3 linked regions of the Homo sapiens genome follow. The protein of the gene in region 1 interacts with the protein of each later gene in a biochemical or structural test. Each region holds a gene or a part of one and is shown in the gene's direction. Other genes may lie near its edges.

Evidence for each region.
Region 2: of the proteins of NGFR (region 1) and PRKACB, one has a biochemical effect on the other in vitro, tested with the Homo sapiens proteins (one study listed by BioGRID).
Region 3: the proteins of NGFR (region 1) and FSCN1 form a complex in vitro, tested with the Homo sapiens proteins (one study listed by BioGRID).

What each region holds. Positions count from the first base shown.
Region 1 is NC_000017.11:49,498,293-49,501,892, forward strand, and holds part of NGFR (tumor necrosis factor receptor superfamily member 16 precursor), read left to right. Parts: intron 1-3,600. UniProt on the Homo sapiens protein: Low affinity receptor which can bind to NGF, BDNF, NTF3, and NTF4. Forms a heterodimeric receptor with SORCS2 that binds the precursor forms of NGF, BDNF and NTF3 with high affinity, and has much lower affinity for mature NGF and BDNF.
Region 2 is NC_000001.11:84,182,107-84,185,933, forward strand, and holds part of PRKACB (cAMP-dependent protein kinase catalytic subunit beta), read left to right. Parts: intron 1-93; coding exon 94-222; intron 223-1,930; coding exon 1,931-2,029; intron 2,030-2,993; coding exon 2,994-3,076; intron 3,077-3,827. UniProt on the Homo sapiens protein: Mediates cAMP-dependent signaling triggered by receptor binding to GPCRs.
Region 3 is NC_000007.14:5,595,631-5,599,457, forward strand, and holds part of FSCN1 (fascin), read left to right. Parts: intron 1-3,827. UniProt on the Homo sapiens protein: Actin-binding protein that contains 2 major actin binding sites. Organizes filamentous actin into parallel bundles. Plays a role in the organization of actin filament bundles and the formation of microspikes, membrane ruffles, and stress fibers.

The sequences.
Region 1 (3,600 bases):
CTTCTCCACACGCAGAGGCCCTGCCCCCTCTCAAGTCTCTATGCTACATTATCTTGGGTAATTAGCTCCTTTCCTCCCAACTCCTCCCCTATCCAAAGGGAGTGAGGGGTATGTGCCAGTGCCTCCCCTGGGTTTGCATCGACCTCAAAAGGCCCTCCAGGTGTTTGAAAATCTCTCCCATCCCATGGCGGTGACCACGGCCCCATTCACTTAAGAGCTCTTTGCTGAAGCTGTTGGAATGGCCAGGGCTGATTATACTGAAACATTCGTATGGTTTCAAATACTTTCAACTGTTTCGCTGTTTCTCTCTTTTCTCTAATTAAAAAAAATGAAAATTCTTAAAAGTCAATTCATCTAAGGATCCTTCCACCTTAGTTCCTTGTAAGCCTTGAAATGGCCAAAACAAAAAGATTACAAGCGTTCTTAAAAATGAGATGAAATCATTCTGTCAAATGTGAAATGACTAAGTGTAACACATACAAATTTCAGGGAAATTTATCTGTCATCCCTATAAATTAATCCTTTTGGATCTGATTTTGGAGCAATTAGCCTGAATGTTAGTCACCCCTCCCTACTTGGCTAAACTCTCCCCTCCTGCCTGGGGTCTCCTTAAGATGAGATGCTTCTTTGATAACTAACATTTATTAAATTCCTACTGTAGACCAGACATATTTGCATAAATTATTTCACTTAATTCTCCCAGCAATCCTGGGCAATAGACATTATCAACCCAATGTTTTAGGTGAGAAAAACTGAGGTTTAGGGAAATTAAGTAATTTACCCTAAGCAACATACTATTAAGAAGCAGATCTAGGATTTTACAACATAGGGAACATAAAACAAGGACAGGAAATGCATGGTTACTAATTATCTGGCCCCTACTCCAAATGCAGTTTTTAAGAGAAGAGAGAGGACCTCAGGCTGCAGCAGGGAGAACAGGTTTCTTGGCAGGGGCATTTGCACAAAGCCCCCACACCACCCAAGACCACTGTAGACAGATCTCCTCAGCTGTCCAGAGCCCAACAAACTGGAACACAGCCAATGGCCACAAAGTAGACCCTGGAGGACAGAAAAGAGGGGTCCCAAAGTACATAAATACCTTATTTACTTGTGTAATACTTACAGCAATCCTATGATGCAGGTACTGTCATCATTACCTAATTATGACCCAGGACAAGTGTGGAGCCAGGATTCAGAGTGGCGTGAGAGCTCACAGATTGTATTCAGAGGCTTGCCTCCTCCTGGTTCAGATCCTATTTACATACCTTTATATTTTTTATTATTTTTATTTTATTTATTTATTTATTTATTTTGAGACGGACTGTCACTCTGCCACCCAGGCTGGAGTGCAGTGGCACGATCTCGACTCACTGCAACCTCTGCCTCCTGGGTTCAAGCGATTCTCCTGCCTCAGCCTCCTGAGTAGCTGAGACTACAGGCGCCCGCCACCACGCCTGGCTAATATTTTGTATTTTTAGTAGAGATGGGGTTTCACCATGTTAGGCAGGATGGTCTCGATCTCCTGACCTCGTGATCTGCCTGCCTCGGCCTCCCAAAGTGCTGGGATTACAGGCGTAAGCCACCACGCCCGGCCGGCACATGCCTTTCTACCAAGGCGAGTTCCACAGTTTCTGAAGATTCAATTAGACCTTAAATAGATTAGCGTGGTGGGGGAAGGGTTGCTTCAGGTCACACTCTGGTAGCAGCAAGAAGTGACAACTGATACCTTGACAGGAAGGGAGGAAACAGAAAAGCTATATTAAAAAAAAAAAAAAGGCTGACAGGAGAACTCAAAAAGACAAAAGTGTGGTAATTTGGGAAAAGAACAAAAGAGTTTCCCTGTATTGCAGCCCAGAGTAATCGCTGGTGTAAATACAGAGTCCCTGAGTCATGGGAAGCCATGAAGCTTTGCTCCAGAGACAGGGAAGGGTGCAGCCACCATGGTGAAAAGCAAAAATGATGAGGGCAGCAAAGCCTGGCAGTCTGGAATCTCGGCTAACCAACAGTCGCTCTCCCAGAGTTCTGGTTAATTGAGGTCATACAGTATTTTCATGTATTTCAACTCCACGCGTGTATGCATTGTGTCCCTACTGCATGCCAGATACCGCATCAGGCCCTGGGGCAATCCAGCTCCCTCAGGGAGCTGACAGTCCAATGAGGGAGTCTATAAAGTTCAGGCCAGACAAAAGCAGAGAGAACCGGAGAACAGGCTGGATGCGTAACATGGCAGCCCCACCTAATCTGTGAGCGGTGGGTGCAACAGGACCACTTCCTTGAGGAAGTGACATTTAAGCAGAGCCCTAAAGGATGAAAAGAAATCAGAACAGGCCCTTCTGGAATCTTGCCTCTTGAGGGAAAGCCTGCATCTGGGACCCTGAGGCTCCTGGTCTGCAGATGTTCCCAGCACTGAGTGTGTTGCTGCCCTGGAGGAGGTGCGGCAACACCAAGGTTCCACCTCCTCTGTTGCCTGTGCCTGTCCTGCTGGTCTCATGAGGACCACAGACTCCCTCCTGGGTTGATCCAACCTGTCTATCCCCCTGACTCCTCTGTTTCCTTCCCCACCAAACCCTGATGAGGCCGCAGGATATTTTAAAAGGCTGGAGGGAAAGGAGTGTCTTGGCCATGATCTGGCCAATGTAGAAGAAGCAGAATGCCCAAAACAAGCTTGTAAAGCTTCCCTCTGGTCCCACGACCCCAAAGCCCATACTTCTCAGCATCAAATGAGGGCTGCATGGTCTGGAGCTAGCAAAGCAGGCTTTGGAGTTTTATTAGACATTAAGTTTTTTTTAAAGGAACAGAAATATAAAGCAAGCCTCCACCAGCCCCTTCCCCTGGGGAATCTGGTGTTAAATTGTTACATCCACGAGCAAAGATGCTTCAGTGGCAGGAACCTGACTCCCCTTTCCCTTGGTTCCAGCCCTGTTCCCAGTGGCCACATGGGGGAGGGGGAGGACTGGTGGCTGGAAATCAAACCGTGGCAGGGCAGGGCTGCTGGGTGGTGAGAGCAGCCACTGTCCCATCATTGATAACAGTTCTCCCTTTCTCTCCATCTTGGTGCGAGGCTTTTGCCAAATGGCTGGCCTTTTGCCCTGGCACCAGGCTGTTGCCATCTCTGTAGAGAAATGAAGACTCAGAGGGAAGATGGGCAAGCAAGACCCCCAGTGTAGAGTCAGGATTCAAACCCAAGACCCTGGCCCTCTCCTTTCTGCTCTTGGGCATGGACATCTTCCATTTATTATTTAATATGTGGAATTAAGGACCTGGAGTAAGGCCCTGCTGGCCTTTGTTAGAAAAAGGCCCTCCTCTGGGTAGATACAACCCAGCAGGTGCAAAGCTTAGCAAATGGAGTTTGGGATAGGTTTCAGCTCTACTTGCCCCGTTGGCTGGGAGCCCTGTGCAAGCTACAACCTGTCCAACCATTCATGACATCCCTGTTGGTAGGCCCTCCGCTGGGCCTCTGGCCACCTTCCCCATGTGGTATATCCTTGGGATTCCAGGAGTTGCTGTAACCCCAGGATGAACTTTGCAGAAGGTCAGCAGCTGAAGCTCTGACCTCACACCCCCAGCAGCCTGCACGGGCACACTGTCCCTCACTTGCCT
Region 2 (3,827 bases), on another chromosome or scaffold:
ATTATCCATTATGATTATGTATTATTAAAGCATTTATAATTCCCATAGTGTTTTTACGAGAATTTTAAATTTTATTTATGTATTTACATATAGAATAATGCCGGACTTGAAGATTTTGAAAGGAAAAAAACCCTTGGAACAGGTTCATTTGGAAGAGTCATGTTGGTAAAACACAAAGCCACTGAACAGTATTATGCCATGAAGATCTTAGATAAGCAGAAGGTGAGTGTATTTGTTGTTATTTACCTTCAGGGTAAACTTTAGTTTTATCAGCTAGACTATTAAACAGATTCAGTATAATGACTTACCATTGACAGCTTCAAATAATTTTATTATTAAATTTAATTTTTATTGTAACTAAATTTTTATTGTAACTATATTATACATAGTTAGTATACAGTCAGCCCTTCCATATCTATGGGTTCCACGTCCATGGATTTAACCAATCACAGATTGAAGATATTTGGGAAAAAAATTACATCTATACCTAACATGTACAGACTTTTGTTTCTTGTTATTATTCCCTAAACAATACAGTGTAACAACTATTTACATAGCATTTACAATATATCAGGTATTATAAGTAATCTAGAGATGATTTAAAGTATATGGACAGTGTGTATAGGCTTTATGCAAAGCCTCTGTCATTTTATATAAGGGACTTGAGCACCTGGGCATTTTGGTTTCTGCTGTAGGTCCTGGAACCAACCCCCAGGGATACTGATGGACAACTATAATTTATTGTGACAATTATGGACTAATTTGTTTTGTAACTATTACAGAAGTTAAAATGTGTACAGTAGTGATCCAACCACTTCATGTTACAAATTTTGAAAACCTGAGGCCCAAAGATTTGAAATCATCTCAAGTCAGAAAGTTAGTTAAATAAAAGGCCTAGATTAAAACACAAATCTGACTCCTACTCAATTTATTTGCTCAATATTATCAGTATACTCCTAATTTTATATATTAATACCTGGCTGGTATCTTTAATTACTTTTGTTATTTATATTTAACTTCTTGACTTCTGTGACTATCCTCACATTGACCATTAGACTCCAGCAAGAAAGAATGCCACCTTCTAATGATTTACACATATACAAGAAAATTATTTATATGTCTTGCTAAAGTCACCACTTCTTAAATTCAAAATAGAATCACATATGGAATAGAATCACAGTCTTCGTGAAGTCAAGATAAATTACTTTCCCCTTCTATTAAATAGAAAATCTAGAGGAAGCTTAAGTCTAAATGACCTAGGATACAAAGATAGTTTTTGTTATAAAGATAGTTTTTTCCCCAATATTTTGTGTGTCCTCTTCTATGGCAATATAAAATAAATTTTTAGAATTTATACCTATATTTATTTAGATATTATAAAATGAAAATTGTTCATTTTTACTCACTATTTTTCAGTTATGGACTTTCTCTTCATTTTTAATTTTCTTATTCATCTTCTGAAGTATTTAAAATCACTATCTACTTATTGCAGAGATTTGAGCCAGCTTTTATAGAGGACTTTAAGTCATTAGGACCTTAGTATTTTCACATTCATTTTTAAATTACCTTAAGTAATTATATATTTATTTAAGCATAATTGACATAACTAATTTTTAAAGTAATTTCTTATGAGTTTGTTTCTTATTCCTACTTAGCTCTCACTTCTTAATTGAAACCATAATTGACCTTCCTAAGACCAAGTTTTAAATCCTCTATTAGGTTTTCATTTGAATCCTATTATTAAAAGTAATGGCAAAAACCGCAATTACTTATGCACCAACCTAAAAGTTGGTAATTGTTATTATCTTCCTTATCCAATTCTAACAATTTTGCTTATCCAAGTTTATTACTATATGGAAAACATTTTTTTAAATGATAACTTTTTAATTTTGCTTAAATACATTAAGAGATATTTATCTCTCAATTACAGGTTGTTAAACTGAAGCAAATAGAGCATACTTTGAATGAGAAAAGAATATTACAGGCAGTGAATTTTCCTTTCCTTGTTCGACTGGAGTATGCTTTTAAGGTAAATTTTAGTAATATCTAAATAAGATATTTTCAACCTAAATTTTTTTTAAGATGAAACTATAAATGGATTCTAAACCAGATGATAAGCCTGAAGAATATGAATAAACAAAACGAATACCTCTAGAGTTTGTGTAATTAAATCCTATTGTGCTTATAACTTAGGTAACGTTTGAAAAGGTTTTGATTCTCCCTGGGGAAATTGTTCAAAGGTGATACTCATGAGATGGTATTACAAAAAGAAATATTTCAATTTATCAAAAACCATAGGGATATCTTAATAACAATTCTTATGCAAATTCATACACCCAACACATTTTCTACTTTGATTAAGCCCTTTTTGCCACTATCTCATCTTCTTTTACTTAGTAATTTGAGTTCTAGTCTTTTCACTTATACAAAGCAAAATTTTTGTTCCACTATTCAAATGTCTGAAAAATTGTACCACATTTATTATTTAAATTGGTCACTTTTGAGCTCTTTGGAATGATACTGGCATCTCTCTGCAATATTGAATCATATGAAACATTTTAATCTTTTTTCTCCTTTATTCTTTAAATTAAATGAAGACCTATGTATTTAAAATATTAAAACCATTAATCTTTTATACATAAAATGTAAATATTCTTATTAACTTTTTAAATTGTTTTTTACCTTTGTTATTCTTTTGCATATATTATAACGTTACTTCATTGCCTGAGTATTTAATTGTTTGAGAACTAGATGTTCTCTGCAAGAAAAGGAAGAGCAAAAGTCCCAGACTAGTTTGTGGCAAAAATAACTAGGAGGGGAAAAATATGAGTGTCTCTGTATAGAAAAGCTAGAGCATGTTCCATTTATTCTTTATTTCTCAAGGTTATTAATCTGTCAGAGAGATTTTAAATTTTTCTAATTCAGCATTATATAATATTAAAATAATTTTGACCTAAGTTGAATAATTGTATTTCCTTTTTATTTGTTCATAGGATAATTCTAATTTATACATGGTTATGGAATATGTCCCTGGGGGTGAAATGTTTTCACATCTAAGAAGAATTGGAAGGTTCAGGTAACTAATGGTTTTGCTTTCTTCAAATCTTTATATGCTTGTGTTGTTTAACCAGATTTTTAAGTTGATGCCAATGCCAAAAACTTATTTTGTTTGATTAATATTTTGGCCATATGAAGCATTAGGTGGAAACAAAGAGGCCACATCATACACAAGTTTTAATATAAAGAATATAAAAATTTAATATAAAAAAAGGACTTTGAAGCCAATTTAAATGTTATACTACTGCTAGATATTGTGAGGGTCCACTACTTGAAGAGTTTTCAGAAAATGGAAAAATTAATTGAATTTTAAAATATCAATATTTATTAAACAAAGATTAATAATACAACTCCAGGACAGAGGATTGTTTTAAGGATGAAGATGGAAAATAAATATATAGAGAAATAATAATAATAGTATTATGGTAATAAGATTATAAAAGTTTGTTTTTCACAAATTTAATTCTCCTTAAAGTTCTTGCTAAGTTTAGTTTTTAAAATATACACATAATTTAACGGGAGTTTGTACCTCATCAGGTTATGACTAATAAGATCTCAGAGTTATTAAAATAGGTTATAGAATCTGATGGTTTTACCTGTACTTAATAGTTTATAAGCTTCTACCGTTCATTAATAATCACTAATAGAATAAAGCTAAAATAAAAAACAGGTACAGCTTCATTCAGTATAGTGTGTTGAAGTCAAAATAAAAATGTAGAGACAAATCTCTAAATTCAACATTTTATTGAGGAAGCAAGAATTGCAGTTTG
Region 3 (3,827 bases), on another chromosome or scaffold:
GCGTTGTAGGCTGTGGGTGTCTCCTGTGCAAAGGTCTTATGGCAGGAAGGTACAGAGAAAGCCCAGTGTGGCTGGGAGGAAGCTTGTGAGGTCTGGGCCACGGGACCTTGGGTGAGAGCTTAGTGCAGGGCTATGGTCCTTGCCTTGGGGTTGCAGCCACAGCCTCCCGTGGGGAAGAAGTCGCAGAAGTAGGTGGCCTTGGCCCTGGGGGCCAGGAAGTTGCAGAGAGCCTGAGGGTGTTTTTGGCGAGCCTGGGCAGATAACTCCCCTCTCCTGAGAAGCTTGCTGGGGGCGTCTGGTGTGTGATTCAGGCTGATAGGGTGGGAGGAACCAGAAATTGCAGCCAGGAGAGGTGGTGGTGATGGCTCAGCTTGGAGTTGAAAGGGATGTGGGACGGCGCGGGGGTGGGGGTACTTGGGGGCCGAGGTTGGGGCTCCTCTGGCCTCAGATCTTGGGGTCCTTATCTCGTTTCTATGTCAGCCAACTCCCGGGGGGCTTTTGGGAACTGGAGTCTGCAGGGGTGGGCGTGGGGGGCGTGTCTGCAGAGGCCATTTTGGACGGGCCTGCGTGGCAAGGGGGAGGCGTCTGCTTCCGACACACATGCTGGGGAACGCCAGCCAGGAAGGGGAGGATCCGGACTTAGCTGGCAGGGGGGATGTGAATCATCTCTGCAGGCCTGCACGGGCGGGCCCGGTGGGGGCAGGGTGCTCCCCTTTGAAAAACGCTGCGCCCTGCTCTTCAGCCTCAGTTTCCCCATCTGTAAAGTGTGCATTCCAGGCCTCCTTGGGCTGGCCCAGAGCTGCCCTGGGCAGGGGCTTTCAGCCCTTCACACCAGAGGCTGGGTCAGCTGAGTGAGTGCTCCTTTGTCCTCCCGCCATGCCCCAGGCTCCTCCCTGCTCCCCAGGATCCACACCTACCCTGGCCCCGACCCTGGGCCATGCCTCACCACACTTCCTGTCTTCTCTCACATCTCTCACATCTGGGAGTCCTCTCCCGCCAGCCTGTGCTTGCATCTGGGGATCCATGCCAGGGATAGGACCTGTCCTCCCTGCTGGCTTGGGACATGCCCTCTCCCAGCCACTCTGAGGAGGGCTGACTGAGGAAGGGCTCGTCAAGCTGGGCTTTGCAGGATGTGTAAGAGTTCTCCCCACGAGGCGCAGGGCATTCTGAGCCCAGGGAATGGCTTGTATAAGGATGCAGAGGCATTTGAAATGGCCAAGTAGTTGCAGGAATCGACTGGAAACCGGGGTGGTAAGGTGAAGCCATAGAACATTCCAGGCCCCCTCCCCTAAATGAGATGGAAGGAGTGCCTGTTTTGAACAAGCCAGGGGCATCTGGGGACCGTTAAGGCCTGGGGGTGGTGATGGGGACTGGAGGGTGTGAGGCAACCAGGGGGTGCCCCTCTGAGCCACCACAGACAGAATGGTTCAGAAGGCCAGGCACACTGGCTCTCGCCTGTAATCCAAGCACTTTGGGAGGCCAAGGAGGGAAGATGGCTTCGGCCAAGGAGGGAAGATGGCTTCAGCCCAGGAGTTCAAGGCCAGCCTGGAAAACATGGCAAAACCTCTGTCTACAAAAAATACAAAAAATTAGCCAGGCATGGTGATGCACGCCTGTCGTCCCAGCTACTCAGGAGGCTTAGATGGGAGGATCACTTGAGCCGGGGAGTTTGAGGCTGCAGTGAGCCGAGATCGTGCCACTGCACTCCAGCCTGGGCAACAGAACGAGACCCTGTCTTAAAAAAATTTTTTTTGGCCTGGTGCGGTGGCTCACGCCTGTAATGCCAGCACTTTGGGAGTCCAAGGTGGGTGGATCACCTGGAGGTCGGGAGTTTGAGACCAGTCTGACCAACATGGAGAAACCCCATCTCTACTAAAAACACAAAAATTAGCCGGGCGTGGTGGCGCATGCCTGTAATCCCAGCTACTCTGGAGGCTGAGGCAGGAGAATCCCTTGAACCCGGGAGGCGGAAGTTGCAGTGAGCCGAGATCGCACCATTGCACTCCAGCCTGGGCAACAAGAGTGAAACTCCATCTCAAAAAACAAAACAAAACAAAAAAAACAACCAAAACAAACAAACAAAAAACTGTAATTAAAATAATTAAAAGAAAAAAGTTAAAAAAAAAAAAAAGAGAGGATGGCTCAAAGGCTGGAAACAGGGAAGGCCACTGTGAGGGGAGGACAGGCAGGGCTAGACCTCTCTGGAAGGAGGAGGGAGAGGTACCCGTGGGCCCGGCACAGGAGACTCTTAATCTCCTGGCTCCCGGGGGCTTCTGTGGGCCTGTGACTCAGGATTTCTGTGCCTCTGTTGATGAAAAGAAAAATCCTGAAGAAAACACTGTTCCCATAGTAACACAGCTCTAATTAGAGACTCCAAGGCCAAGCGAGGGCCTTGGAGCCAGGAGGGGCCCTGCTCTACTGGGGGGACGACACCCCTTTCCCCTATCCCTCCCTGCTGGGGTGTGGCCTGATGTCTACGTGGCACCAGGCCCCTAAATCCTTTCAACATCCTGGCGGAGCGGAGAGGCTGGGCCCTTTTGACAGGTGGGGAAACTGAGGAAGGTTGCAGGGAAGGCACTCATCCAAGGGTGCCTGGCCCCCCGCGGTGGGTGCCTCACTGGCTGGCCTAAACCTTTGCATCAAACCAGTTCCAGGATTGAACGCAACAGGCTGATGGGGACTGAGTCGTGGTACAGATGGCGGCAGTTGTGTGGCCCTGGGCCCAGGAATGGCTGGGAAGCTCCCTTTCTTCTCTGGCTTGGGGGATGAGGTTAGTGTAAATTTCATGGAGTTGCCAGGAGGATTAAGGCCGACGTGCATTCACACGTGGCCCCGTGGCTGCCGCCAGTTAAGCCCTGCGCAGCCATTGGAAGTCTCATTGAGAAGGAGCCTCCCGGCTTCCTGCATTTGTTCCAGGCGGGCTGGTAAGCGCCCTGCTTATTTGCAAGGCTGTGTGAGGACGAGCCCTGTAAACCCTAGGACGAGGCTGTGCTAATGTGGTTTCTGTTCCACTGTCTCCCCTTCTCCTTTTGCCCCTCTTTCTGGGGAACCTGGAGCCCCTGATGCCCTCTGTTTTTTCCTGCTGCTGGGGTGGACCTAGAACCTCTCCCTCCATCCTTTCTGCTGCTGGGGTGGGCCTGCAGGAGGCTGTCCTCTTACCTGGTCCCTAACTTCCCTCCGATCAGCGGGGCTTCAGCGGAGCCCCAGCGCATTGGACAGGTGGTGCTCTGTGGCCGGCACAGGCCAGGGCCCAGGGTGCGGCCCCTGCCTGTAGGTAGACATGCAGGCCCTTCTGAGCAGAATGAGGGGGCGGTGAGGGCAGCTGTGCGGGTGTGGCTGGCCTGACGGCTCCCTGCAGCCCTGCGGCTTCTGTGCAGTGGGGGTGGGGCGGGCCAGACCTTTGCAGGGCCTCTTGGCTGGTGGAGGGCTGAGTGAGCAGAGGCCCCAGCCCTCGTGTTCCCTGGGGTGTGGCCTTAGGATGGTCCCGGCACCCTGGGACCCAGCCCCTGCTCACCTTATCCTCCTCCCGTGCTTGGCTGGGGTGTGGTGGCTGAGCCAGCCCACCCAGTGCGGTGGATGCTCGTCGGAGGGCAGAGGGTGGGCTACCGGCTTAAGGGGCCCCAGGGAACCTGGGGGGTGGAGCCCAAGGGGTTCCAAGAAGGGGCGGGGCCAGGAACCCATAGACAAGAGGGTGGGGCAGGGAAAGGGCGTGGCAAGAGGGCCACCCACCTCCGGTCCAGAGAGCCAGCCAGACCCTTACTTTCTCTTGCTGTGTGACCTTAGGCAAGGACATGCCACCACCGGCCTTAGTCTCCCTCTTTGTGAAG